Homo sapiens: one gene and its partner. The protein of the gene in region 1 interacts with the protein of each later gene in a pairwise test. Each region holds a gene or a part of one and is shown on either strand. Other genes may lie near its edges.

Region 1 (3,753 bases):
AAGATACAAAACATTTCTCCCATCATTTTTCTATTTTGTTAGCCAGGAGAAGAAAACCTTTAAATTTATTTTTTCTGGTCTGTCCATTGTTGATTTCTCATCTACCCCCTCCCTATGCAAAGCTCAACTTCTTTAGGAACCTGAAGCTTACCTTATAACTGCACCCAAGCCCAGGGCTTTAGGAACCTACCTGGCCTTTCTCAAAATCTTATAGATTCTGTGGTTTGGCTGCTGGGAGCCAGAGGGAGGTGGCTTGCTACTGTGTTTGCTATCATTTTGTAAACCTTCCGTTGCCATTTAAATAGGTATTTGTCTGTACTTTTAGAATAGAAGTGTCTTGAAGGCAATAAGACTGTGAGCTTTTCTGGTGAAAACACTGAGAGCCCAAGTCCACTAGTCCCAACTTTATTAGAGATGCCTGAAAATCCTCCCTGGCTGGCTAGGGGGAGCCGAACCAAGGTGGGATGGGCAAAGGGTGTGGTCAAATTGTCTCCTTCAGTTTTGGAAATATTTAATTTCCAATATAGATTCAGTATACATGGTAGGCTGTTTTGCTTCTCTGATGCCTGGGATAATCTGCCTGATATTTAGTGAGGGGTCAGCTTTGCCCTATAGCACCCTTTCTCTTCTGTATCTTGAGCATAGGCCCCCAGTTAGACTTTTGGAAAGTTTCTGAAAGTGTCACTTGCTCTGAAATTAGTATCAGGTTTGGCTGGTGGTTTGATGGTGAACATCTACCCCATTTCAAATATTTCTGAAAATTTTACACAGCATCCTATGGAGAATGGAACACTTTGTAAGCTATATGTACTTTGATGTAAATGTATATGTACAGATAGCATATGTATATACACACATATATAGTAAGTGGTCCATAGATATTTGTTGAATGAATGGAGAATAACTTTTTCGGTTGTATGCAAAATTCTGATATATGCTTTGCTTAGTAAAAATGCAACATGGCATATTTTCAAGGATTTTTCCTTTTCTTGTCCCATCTTCTAGTATGAAAGAAGTGTAGTGTAGCAGAACTTGACAGTAAAGCTAAATGGTTACAAGCACAGGCTTTGGCATTTAACAGACCTGGATTTGAATCTTTTCTCTGTTGTATAGTGGGTGTGTCAGTTTTCCTGAGCCTTTCAAGAGTGTTATGAGATTGAAGTGAGGTCATGCATGTAAAGTACTGGAGAACAGCACCCAGCCAAGAGGTGAGTGCGTGAAATTAATTTGGGGTACATGAAATTAAGGATATGTGAACTTCCAGAAATAATATACACAATTTTATATGCATTTTTACGGTTCTGTATTTATAGCTATAGCTATAATCTTATTTTCCAAGAAAAGTGTCAACCTCTGAACGATAGGAACTGCTGACTTGGAGTGTTTGATGCCTGAGGCAATGGGTTGTCTTCCTGGGGAGGCTGAAAGGAGTTGAGTGTTGGTGGCTAGTTCTAGGCCTTATCCCAGGTTAACACACTCCATGGAGGCCCCACTTCTCACCTCCCAGTTTCCCTTCCACCAGGCAGGCTGTTAATTGGGCCTGAGAGAAGCTGAAGAATGGTGCCAAGTCCTTGTGACCTCAAGTAAGAAAATATGTCTCTGAATCCAAGCATTCTGAGATGCAATTTGTACAGTTTATTTAACAAACACTTATCTAATCCTTACAATGGGCCAATCACTCTTCTAAGCCTTTTGCAAGTATTAACTCACTGAATCCTCACAACAACCCTATAAGGGAGATAGCATAATTAGCTCATTTTACTGATGGGTAAACTTAGGCACAGAGAGGTTAAGTTACTTTCTTTAGGTTACACTGCTAAAAAGTGGCATTACTGGGCTTACAAGCCCTAACAGTTCATGCTCTTACCTTAGTGGCTGTCCTAGACATTCTTTCCTTGTTTAATTCTTACAATTTATATTCTTTTAATGTATGGAACAAAGGTGGTATTTCCCAAGGTTTTCCAACAGCAGCAAAGGGAAGCTTGCTTAGCTGTAATCTAGAGGTTATAAGAAATTATTGGAGACAGCCAATTTCAATTTCCCTTCGAGTGCTGGAGTTCCCTAAGACGGTCTTGCTGAAACTCAGAGATAGACTGGAAGCACCTTGTTGGATGGCCTGGATCTCTGGTTCTGGAAGAATTACATTTTTGTAATGAGCTTCAACTTTGATGTGGTTTGAGAAGTGTGCTCGCCAGTTTTTTCCAACTATCAATAAGCTATATTTTGATGAAGTGACTTTGTATTTGCATCTTGGTGGACAACTGTGGTTGTAGGCTGAGAAGGCGGGGATTTATTAGAGTGCTGTCTAGTGGGACAGCTGGCTTGCCAGCTCAAGGTCCCAGTGAGGACCAGACCCTGGCAAATCCAGCTCCAGCTGAGAAACACTCACGTCTTCAAGGCCTCTTTCTCAAACAGAAGGGCCTTAGCCTGGCTTCACCCATTCCCTGGGGTGTGACGGGAGAGACTGTTCGGTAGAAACTGGAAGAGAAAGGAGAGTCTGAGAAAGTTCTCTGGAGTTGAAGGGGGAGGGGATGGGGGCAACTCTTCGAAAATCCTTAACTAAATGCAGCTGCTTGTTACACGGAGACTGACTTGCATGCCAGGAATATCTAAAAAGCTAACGAATACAAAATAAAAATAAACAGCAGTAAAAAGGCTCTCTCTTTGTTGCAGTAAGCTCAGTTGGGGTTTTCAGTTTGTTTAGGAATGGGATAATTGTGGCATCCACTTTATTTTGGTAAGGCAGTGAAACGTGGATTAATGTTATGTGATTGGGATGCTACCACCATCTGAACTTTTTCCTTCATCCCCTGCCCCCAGCCACACCCCCCAGAACACCCAGGCATGGACATCCATAGGACCTGAGTCTCAAACAGTTGCCCCTGAGTGAATTACATTGGAAGAGGGCAGATAATTTAATGGGATAATCTTGGCAGGGCCAGCAAATTTCACACCTCATCTCTCACTAATAGAAAGGCAGCAGAAGGCTACAACATCCTCAGATGAAAAGGTTGTATAAAAAGGCTCTGCTTAACAGTAACTGTCTGTCCATAAATAAGGTTTTGTACAGTCTTGATCCAAAAGCTGTTATGAAATACTGATAAGCCAAGCCTCATAATGTTTGGCCTCCTTACATTTCCTTTTCCTGCTTCTCTCCATAGAACCATAGATTTTTTTTTTTTTAAGAGAGAGAGGGGGACTAAAAAAAAGATCAACAGTCCAAACTTTATTTTTTTCAAGTATTTCTATACAGGATGGACTTCCTTTGATAGCTGCTTAAAGAGGTGGCGTGGAGTAATGGAAATAGAATGGGATTTGAGCCTGATAGGGAATGGGGGTTTGAATTGGGGCTTTGTTGCCTTCTTGGGCAAAGTTACCTAAACTTTTGAGCCTCTGTTTTCTTATCTGTAAAATGGGAATAACAATAATATGTGGCTTACTGGGGGGTTTTGTGAGAATAAAAGGATGTTATGAACTTATAGCGCCTAACACAGCACCATGGACTTAGTGAACGTGAAGTATGTTAGCCACCATCATTATCAAGGGCTTACTGAAGAAATTTGAAAATCTGGCTTCAAAACGATGGTCCTGCTGCAAGGTAGCAACCAAGGCTCAGAGAATAGCAAGTTTTACAAGGTTTTAGGACTCCAGAGTGTTTTGTTTTATAGGGAGCATGCAGATGCTCTAGATCTGAGCAGTACCCAGGCCAGTGCTGGGGACCTGGATGGAAGGGATTCCACAGTGCAGTTTTGC
Region 2 (3,753 bases), on another chromosome or scaffold:
CTTAATACCTAGGTCATGGGTTGATAAGTGCAGCAAATCCCCATGGCACACGTTTACCAATGTAACAAACCTGCACATCCTGTACATGTGCCCCAGAACTTAAAAAAACCTTGGGTATAATGTGATAGTCTGCAAGTGCTTGACAGCCACCTATGATGAAATAAGAATTTTGCAGTGGAATGAAAATCAATTGTCACTAAAAATATACTCCTTAGTTCAGCGTTTGGGTGGGGTGGGGGAGTAGCCAAAATCTCTCAAAGAACTAAGCAATGTCTTGGTTTATATTCAGGCACAACCTTCTTATCCTGCAGAGGTCTGGTAGCAAACTGGACAACACTTTGAGGAGCACAGGTCAGAACAGTCCACTCATGACTATCCACAGTAGTAGAGGGGAATGTAAATATGACAAATACAAAAAAGTGATGGGTAGACTGCTTTGAAACAAAATGGAAGAAGTAAAGCAAGAGAATAGGGTCTGGTGGCAGGGAACCTAAGGCTGTTTTACTCCGATTTCCCAGAACTAAATTCAAAGGAAAACCCTAACTTTCCACACCTAAGTAACAAAAGCACCGGGGGCTACTGCCTTTGCAAACCCCTCACCTTTTCTGCATGCAGATGGGAAATTTGCTGTCCACAACCAATCAGACTAATTGCAGGCCAAGTCTTCGTTTGCATAGAAGTATAACTTTGTAACTTCACCCTAGCCTCTCACTGGTTGCTTTTTGCAACCAATCAGATGTTTGCACAGGAGCGTGACCTTTGTAACTTCACTTCAGCCTCTGGTTGGCTGCTTTCTCCAACCAATCAGACTGACTGCAGGATACCACTTCATTTACATAAGGTGAGCATGAAGTGGCCATTGGGAAACTTCTAGTGGGTATTTGGACCCAAGAAGATTCTGTATCCTGTCCCTTGGGCCGCTGCTTGGACCTGCTCCGACACTGTGGAGTGTGCTTTCACTTTCAATAAATCCCTGCTTTTGCTCTTTTGTTGCTTCATTCTTTCTTTGCTTTGATGGGCGTTTTGTCCAATTATTTGTTCAAAATGCCAAGAACCTGGACAACTTGCAGTCATGACCCTCTACTTGTAACAGAAGCATCTAAAAACTTCGTGAATTTAGGTACTTATTTAGACCCATAATGTCTCTCTAATGAACTTTTACTTCTATTGAACAAAAAACTACAAACAGCTTACATGTCTCATAGCAGGAAATAAGATAAATTATAGAATCACCAACTACCAGAATACTGTGCAAAAATTTTAAATGATTTGAATCATCAAGTATAAAAAGCAGGCTATACAGAGGGGACTAGGGCCAGAGACAGGACCAGGAAGGAACTGAGGACCAAGAAGTGCAAATATCAGTACCCAGGACCAAAGTGGCCGCCCAGAGTTCCCGATCTCACATGTGATAGCACCCCGTCAGCCCTCCCCTCCTGAGCAGGGATCCAAGAATGTGCCAAGAGGCCTGCTGGCCTCAGCCGGGTGGGCCTGTACATAGGGTCCATGTGCAATAGGGAGGGAAGTCTTCTATTTTTTGCTGCCCCCTCCCAGCCCGCTGTCTGGGACAGGGGGAGAAGGTATTTTCAAGATAAAGCACAGGTACCACAAATAAAGTCATGAAGTTGCCCTCCCAAAAAAAAGGCAGGCTATAAAAGAATATAAACTGTATGATACTATTTTTATAAAAATACATATATAGGTCTAGAAAAATATATCAAAATGCTAACAATGCTTATATCTAAGTGTGGAAGTGTCTTAATTTTCATCTGCATTTTCCATTTTTTCTACAAAGAACATGGACTACTTACGTCATGTTTTTAAAATCACATCTTATAAACAATGAACATGAAATATCAAATACACATTGTTATACTTTGTACCTTTTGTACATAAAAAGAGGGGACAAATAAATTTAGTTCCTAAAAGGACTCTTTGGGCTATAGAAGTTACCATTACTGTTCTTCTCAGGTGTATTTCTGTCCCTTTAGGCATAAAGGAAGGACAGAGAAGCCAAATAGAGTTTTGCAAGTACAGAGGGAAATGAGTAAAGACTTAGGAAATGGAATCCATTCCATTTGGCAACGGTATGCAAAAAGATGAAAACAACAAACTATAGCCTAGAAAGGTAGTTTTGAAACATGTAATTCACTGAGTAATTAGATTTAACAATACTTGAATATAAAATAGACAAAGGCATGAAGAGATCTTTTCTTAAAAAAAATGAAAAAAATTCAAGAATTTTTATTGCTAAAACTAAATATATATTAGCCTTCCAGGCATGGTGGCTCATGCCTATAATCCCAGCACTTTGGGAGGCTGAGGCAGGTGGATCACTTGACGTCAGGCATTTGAGACCATCCTGGCCAACATGGCAAAACCCCGTCTCTATTAAAAATACAAAAATTAGCCAGGCATGGTGGTGCGCACCTGTAATCCCAGCTACTAGGAAGGCTGAAGCAGGAGAATCACTTGAGTGCAGGAGGTGGAGTTGCAGTGAGCTGAGATTGTGTCATGGCACTGAGTTTTCAGGGCAGGGAAATATTGGCTGAGGTTAGGATTCCAGTATAAAACACAAGGCTTGAGAGGGTAGAACATATTTCTGAAATCTAATTCATCTTATCAGAAACATTTTCTGCAGCTCCTCAGATTCCTGTGGTGCCGCCATCTCACAGACCCTCTCAGCATGCTCCACCTCGGCTACCACCTCCATGGCTGACTGCTCTCCCCTGCTTTCACTTTTGCCTGTCAAAGAAGGAGCTCTTCTTCCATGGTGTCCACAGTATAGACAGGCGTACTCTGAGTTCTGGATTTTCTAATTCTCAACTTGGTTGAAAAGTTGTATTACTGGGTGTTAGATTTGGCTTCGAGGTGGCTGCTGAAAGAGTGGAATGTTATAACCTAGAATTGTGGGGTTGGTTATATCCCCACTGGCAAACTTTGACCAATGGGAAACAGGAGCTGACAGGAAGCCAGGCAGATAAATCCTCCCTTCCAGGCTGGGTTGAGGTGCAGTTTCTTTGTACTGCCTGTCCAGAGGTATTTTGGGTGGTAGAGTAGCTGTACCTGCTGAATAGCCAACAGTCAGCTCACTGTGAAATGAGCCCAGCAGGGTAAACGCATCACTTTGTATTGCTTCTCGTCCCACCTTGAATCACTTTCCTTTCTTGCCACTCTCACTGCCTAGAGATTGTACCTCTCAAATTAAGCATAAGCTCTAAATCCTCATCTCAGGCTTTATTTTTAGGAAACCCAAGCTAAAATCCACTCTAATTTACTGGCCCAAATTAAGGCAAACTTTATTTTTTAAATTTATTTAAAATTCCAAGCTTATTAGAATATTCAATCTCTTGCTTTTCTTTCTAGATATGATTAACCTCTCTAATTTTTACTTGCAACATTTACATCTCTTCTAATGTTAATATGAATATGGATGATATCTATACTTTGCCATCTCTGGCATATTCTACATCTCCTTAGAGAAGGAGCCAATACAGAAACATCCTTTTTATTTTTAAAACTATTAACTCACACACTGGAATGTTACAATCCAGAGCCTGTAAATTTTTTAACAAGAAAACAGAATGGCCAATATTAGGCTTTGAATTAAAAAACCTCTCCCTTGGCCAGGTGCAGTGGCTCATGCCTGTAATCCTAGCACTTTGGGAGGCTGAGGCAGGTGGTCTGCCTGAGCTCAGGAGTTCAAGACCAGCCTGGGCAACACGGTGAAACCCTGTCTCTACTAAAATACAA

Evidence for each region.
Region 2: the proteins of ROR1 (region 1) and DUSP19 interact in a two-hybrid assay, tested with the Homo sapiens proteins (one study listed by BioGRID and IntAct).

Annotation. Positions count from the first base shown.
Region 1 is NC_000001.11:63,777,001-63,780,753, forward strand, and holds part of ROR1 (inactive tyrosine-protein kinase transmembrane receptor ROR1 isoform 1 precursor), read left to right. Parts: intron 1-3,753. UniProt on the Homo sapiens protein: Has very low kinase activity in vitro and is unlikely to function as a tyrosine kinase in vivo. Receptor for ligand WNT5A which activate downstream NFkB signaling pathway and may result in the inhibition of WNT3A-mediated signaling.
Region 2 is NC_000002.12:183,088,594-183,092,346, reverse strand, and holds part of DUSP19 (dual specificity protein phosphatase 19), read right to left. Parts: intron 1-3,753.